Regions from separate parts of the Homo sapiens genome. Here region 2 is reported to be linked to region 1. The links are microRNA targets in miRTarBase. Many come from high-throughput screens and were not tested one by one. Region 1 holds a microRNA gene; the other region holds the end of a gene's coding sequence.

Region 1 (3,152 bases):
AATAACCAAATTTAAAATGGGCAAAGGATCTGAATAGACATTTCTCTGAAGAAGTTATGGCCAATACACACATGAAGATGACCAACACCATGAGCCATTAGGAAAATGGAAATCAAATGTTATAAGATACCACTCTATGAGAACACATGGAACACACGGACACAGGGAGGGAACAACACACACCAGGGCCTGTCGGTTGTGGGGGTTGGGGAGCAAGGGGATGGAGAGCATTAGGACAAATACCTAATGCATGTGGGGCTTAAAACCTAGATGATGGGTTGATGGGTGCAGCAAACCACCATGGCACATGTATACCTATGTAACAAACCTGCACATTCTGCACATGTATCCCAGAACTTAAAGAAAAATTTAAAAAAAGAGATACCATTGTACCTCCACTAGGATGGTATGATTTTTTCAGTGGCAAATAACAAGTGTTGGCGAGGATATGGAAGAAATCTGGAACCTTCATATAGTGCTGGTGGGAATGTAGAATGGTGCAGCTGGTTTGGGAAAAGGTATGGCAATTTCTCAAAATGTTCAACGTGGAGTTACCATGTGATCTGGCAATTTATATATATACCCAAGAAAAATGAAAATGTACATCCACACAAAAACTCGAACAGAAATGTTCATAGTAGCATTATCCACAATAGTAAAAAAGTGAAACAACCTAAATGTCTGTCAACTGATAAATGGATAATCAAAATGTGATAGAGCTATACAATGACATCGTTTGTTCATAAAGAGGAACAAAGTACTGATGCATGCTACAACATGAGACAGCCTTGATAACATTAAGCTGAGTGAAAGAAGCCAGTCACAAAGTCCTCAAATTGTATGATTCCATTTATATAAAATGTCCAGAATTGGCAAATCTACATAGAGAGAAAATAGATAAGTGGTCACTGGAAGTTGGGGGTTGGGGAAAGAAGGGAATGAGTGCTAATAGGTGTGGGATTTCTTTATGGGGTGATGAAAATCAGTTCTAAAATTGGCTATGGTAATAGTTTGTACAACTAACTGCATATGCAAAAAATATTAAATTGCATATTTTGAGTGAATAGTATGATGTGTGAATTATACCTCAGCAAAACTGTTTTTTTTTTAACAGTAGAGATCATTAAAGAAAAATCACATCAATAAAGAAAAGTAGATAAAGTGGACTTTAAAATCACCTCTCTCTCTGAGGAATCCCACCCCAAGCACCTTCCTAACTGCTTCCTATGCACAGAATCTGTCCAGACTACAGGTGACGAACCGATGACCAGGGGACCACTTGTGGCCTACAAATTCTTATTTTCTTGGCTTATAGAGAAATATTTAAAAAATATTTAAAATTTTTTAAAATATTTAAAAAATAAGTTACTAATATTTTTAAATTAGAAGAGTTCACATTAAACGTGAACTTCTGGCTTCTCTTGGGGGCAGGGGGAACCAAACCAAAATAAAATAAAATACCCCGACTTGATGGCCACACTGGACCCTCTTTTCCCACGTAGAAAAATGAGGCTGCCTTTTTCAGGGCCATTGTGCCCTTCTCAGTTTGTCCCTGTATAACCACTTAAGTTACTTCTTTGTCACCTGCTTTTATCCTTCAGGGACATTTGAGTTTGCAACACCTGTGCAGACCTTTTGCTGTATCAACGGGACGTTCCCTTAGGCCCTGCTTGATGATTGGCTAATCCTATGGTGGTTTCCAACCCTGGCCACACATCAGAGTCTCCTGGGGCCCATGTGAAAAAAATACCCATACAAAGCTGGACACCCCTGAACCCCGGATTTTTTTTTTTTTTAACAATTAGATTAGATTCTCTCGGGGTCGGGCCTAGTATTAAGAAAAAAGAAAAAACCAAAAACCAAAAAATCCAACTTTCCAATGCAAATTTTTGCTTGCATTGGATTAGCAGATTAGTCCAGCATTTCTCCTCCTGTGTGTCCAGGAAGGGAAATGCTGGGCTAACCTGCTAACCCAATGCAAGCAAAGGTTTTAGTATTTGATGATGGTTTAACAGCCTCCTAGATAATTTTTGTTTTACAATTGAAGGCAACCGGTAGAGCTAGGAAAGGGTGCTTTTGATTAGATGAAACTTTTACTTGGTGTTTAAATCAGAGTTGGCAGCTGTCTGGACCTCAATGTAACTGTCCTTTCTATAACCAGTCATGTTAAAAGATTTTGCAAACATTACAACGAGGAAGGCCAGGTCACGGTGCCTTTGCAGCCTTGTTATTTTTAAGCAGCAACTTTTTAAATTGATGAATTTGAGTTGCTCTTGAGACCTTCTGCGGGTTCTGGAAATGTCACCAGGGTTGACAAGCACAAGGAGTTAGTTACAGTGGCTTTTTGAGAGGCCATGAGTGGACGACACAGCAAGACAGGAAACAGGTGCTGGCAGCCAGCAGGTACTCGATAAATATTGGGTGAATGAATTGACAAGACATTTTGCTTCTCATTATCTCCACACGAGATGAAAAATTTGAGGGGAGGAAGGAGGGGCAGGAGAGGGGCCCCTTAGATGTCTTCCTCCGGATTTTTTGTTAAGCTTTTCCTAGACAGTTTACAGAAGGCTTTGGGTAGAGAAAGCACTAGTTAGACAAAAGCAGCCCCCCTCCCACCTTGTGGGCATGAAGAGTCCAGAGGACACCACCTGAGAAGCTTTTCAACTGCCTTCCAAGGCTCCCTTGAACTTCACTGCGGTAGAGCAGGGACCCCAGACCCCCCCTCAAATCGAAGCTTGGAAGGAGGTGCTCTAGGCTGAATCTGACCTCCCAGGACCCGAGGAGGCAAGCAGATGGCACCCCTTGGAAAGTAGCAGTGCAGGCTGGCTAGAGGCCTGGGCGGTGAGCTAGGACTATGGGGCACCGTGGGGACACGCCCGGAGGCTGCACCAGGGCAAGCGGGGGAGGGGGGGGGCGTCCACTGCACCTGCAAATCCCGCGCCTCATCTTGGCCCCCCTGCAACCCCGCGGTGAAGCCCACGCCGGAGAGGCTGCCTGCGGGGCTGCAGTGGAGAGGGGGTCTGCGGCCGCGAGGAGGGAGGCGGCGAGCCAGGCTGGGGAGGGGGGCGCGGCTGGCGACGGTGCTGTCCAGGGGGAGGCGGGCGGAGGGAAGGCGCTGCCGCTGCTGCCGCCGCCTCGCCCGAAGCGACACA
Region 2 (3,000 bases), not on the chromosome of region 1:
TGCAGGGCAGCAACCCAGGATGACGAGGTCGACGTCCCGGAGCCTCCAGGAAGCCAGAGAGCTACAGAAGCGGACACTTACAAACATGCAGCTAAGGCAAAGGACACATGTTGAGGAATTAAACTCGCAGGAGTTGATGGATGAGTCACCTGTCATTCTAGAGGGAAGGTAATCCTTCGCCTTGGGAGAAGAGACGACTTTCTAGAGTCGTAATTATTTTTCATGTGCATAAAAAAAATCTCTCCAGGAACCCAAAACTCACTCCTTAATAAAGTTTATAGCCTAGGACCAGTTTTTCTTGTTCATGTGCCTCTTAATTACCAGGAGCACTTGACACAGATCAGTATGTTCTGATTCAATTAAGTCTGGGATAAAAAGTCTGAGCATTTATATTTTTGAAAAGCACCACAGGTGATTCTGATGCTTACCAAGACCCCAAGACCACTAAGTAGATTGGGCTTCTCTTTCATGGATATGCCTCTAGTTAAAGCTAACTGTATAAAGAAGAAGAATCTCTCTCTACCAAGTGTGAGTACTGCTTTATCAACGGGCTCTAATTATCTCATCTAAAAGGACTTTGTTTTCCTTTTATCTCCACCAAGGCTGTTTCCCTCTTCTCTCTCCGTCTCATCTGAGGATGATCCAAGATCTCTGAGCCCGAGGTGGGTTTGTACCGCACAGTGCTTTACAGAATGCTTTGCACATCGTATAGCATTTGCTCATGAGAGTTTCCATTAACTCCGGGGCAATATACCAGTGCTCCAAACACAAAACACAGGCCAAGACTCCCTGAGGAAGCAACATGGGTGCACCCCCTCCATCCTCTCCAAATGAGAATGGCACGGAGTTATAAACATTATTAAATTTTATTAACAAAACATTTTGTACATTTTAATACATGTGGAATTTTACATCTAGGTAAAATAACAACACATTCAAAATTTACCATTTATACAAACTGTTACAGAATAACAACCAGTGGGTTAAATAAGTAAAATAAACCACACTGATTTTTTAAATTATCTACAAAAGATTTGACTTTAAAATTCCCCTGAACATATAAAAATAAATTAATTTTACTTTTCAATTAAATCTACCAATTAGAAATATTACAAATCAAAATATCAATGTTATCTTATGAATTTGTCACAATACAAAACAGATTCACAAAACTTTATTTACAGAAATGAGGTAAGAACTGTGCAATGTTTAACCAAGAAACATATTGCAGAATTAACATGTTCTTCCAGCTAAGTACACAGTGGAGGTCTAATTACAGCTGGGTCTTTTCCACTAATAATTCACACACCAAAGAAGAGTTTGATGATGACATCCTCAGTGGGGGAATCACTCTGCGGTACTGTCACATCAAAAGCGTGGCTCCCCAAAGTGGAAGGGCTGTCATACAGGTTTCACCTGTTTCAGGAACTCTAGTGGTGAGCTTTTAATGGTCAGTAATGGGAAGTGGTTTAAATAAAACAAATCTCTATTCTTACCAAATCCACTCCTTTTCTTGTGACTCATTAGTGGATAAATACCCAGGTAATAGTTTTGCCTGAGCTATCTACAGTGGCACAGAAAGTTCTGAATAAAGGCGGAAGCATGGGAAGGCTGCAGGTGACGGGATGATTCCTGCTGCTCGGAGGACTGACTGTCCCACCCTGCTGTCTACAGCCCTTGCAGCACAATGGAGGCACTTGATCAAGGGCAAACCCCACCAGCACTTTCCACAGTGGCCCCTTTCTGAAAGAAGTATTTAGCTTTGAATTGATCTGGTTCCCCCAGCAGCCTCAGAACTCACTTAACTCAAGATTTCTTCAAAATATGAGTAGGTCTTAACACTAAAGAAAGCAATTCTCAAAAGAAAATTACCTTTAGCAGATGCAGACATTACCATCCTAACTTCATTACCAAAATTGGCCAAATCCCATTAGAAAGGAAATTTTTTTTTAACAAAGATTGCCAAGTCCCAGGTGATGTGCTATATATTTGTAATACTGAATCAATGCAACTCCAGGAGAAGAAATTAGTTCCTTGGAATTTGACTTAGAGCAAGCATACTGTAACCCAAACAAAAGAGCATATTTCAACTTGTACAATAAAATCAAGTAGTTTGTAAATGGAGCAAGTATTTAGTTTTGCTATTTGCATCTCCAATTTATAAACAAAACTAGTTGTGTACCAACTATATTAAATTCTTGAGTTGATAAACATATTGCATGTAAATTATGTCACTTTAAAAAGTTATTAAATTTTCTTTCCATGTTCAAAAAACTGGGGTAAGGGGTAGGGGCATGGGAATTCCATTTCAGTGCAACAAAGCAACAAGAAAACTAATCAAAGCCTTACAAGAATGTCCTTGCAGCAATTAATCCTTTGTTGTGCATTGAGTTTCTTGTTGCGTTTCTTCATAGCTGTAGTAAAAGGACTGCAAAGGCAGCCAGATGAAGTGCTAGAACAGCAGGATAGGCAATTTCTAGATGTTTCTCAGGTGTCAACTTTTCTCTTGAGCTACAGGCCCAGTTTTATCACTAAGTCTCTGCAGGTAAACAAAAGAGCAGATGCGTTAGCTAAATCAACTTTTGATAATATTCTCCGAATTTGAAACTGTGACTGAGATAAAATGTGGTATAGAAAGTTACTCCCTTTTTTCTTGCAAGTTGGCAAGGCTACTTGCAACGTAATATATAGACATGAATTTACTAGTAAATACTTTAAAAACATTAAATTCAACAGTATAAAAAGACCAAAGAGGTGGGCCCATCTGAGGGACAGAACTTGTAAAGAATGAATGCAGAATTCATCTTCCAAAATCAACTTTTCCACAGAAGTAACATGGTACTGTAGAGAATGAAATTTTTATGGGCTAAGAAAGTCATCGGCTGTGATTCCACATTTGCTATTTGTCCTTGGGCTTTCTTTGCGTTTCCTTTTACTAATCTATAAAAAAAATGGAGTTACAGCCTATTATTAAAGACTGAAATCACAAATGTCACTGTA

Evidence for each region. The annotated mature microRNA hsa-miR-5680 reads GAGAAAUGCUGGACUAAUCUGC and lies in region 1 at 1,907-1,928, opposite strand. An mRNA with a match to its seed (bases 2 to 7 or 8) in the 3' UTR can be bound and repressed. Matches are read on the target gene's strand: a 7mer-m8 pairs with bases 2 to 8, a 7mer-A1 pairs with bases 2 to 7 and ends in A, and an 8mer does both.
Region 2: miRTarBase lists MLLT10 as a target of hsa-miR-5680. Seed matches in the 3' UTR shown: 7mer-m8 at 1,183-1,189 and 7mer-A1 at 1,102-1,108.

Annotation. Positions count from the first base shown.
Region 1 is chr8:102,124,259-102,127,410 of GRCh38, reverse strand. MIR5680 (microRNA 5680) reads right to left here and starts at 1,979; the gene lies at 1,896-1,979. It also overlaps a transcript of NCALD not described here. RefSeq lists a silencer at 3,075-3,134.
Region 2 is chr10:21,741,478-21,744,477 of GRCh38, reverse strand. It overlaps MLLT10 (MLLT10 histone lysine methyltransferase DOT1L cofactor), which reads right to left. Exons shown (of 23, transcript NM_001195626.3): 23 at 848-2,539. The coding sequence ends at 2,495. The region is part of intron 1 of LOC107984214 (a long non-coding RNA gene); the gene reads left to right. Among named protein-coding and RNA genes, the nearest start is that of MLLT10, 210 kb to the right of the region's middle.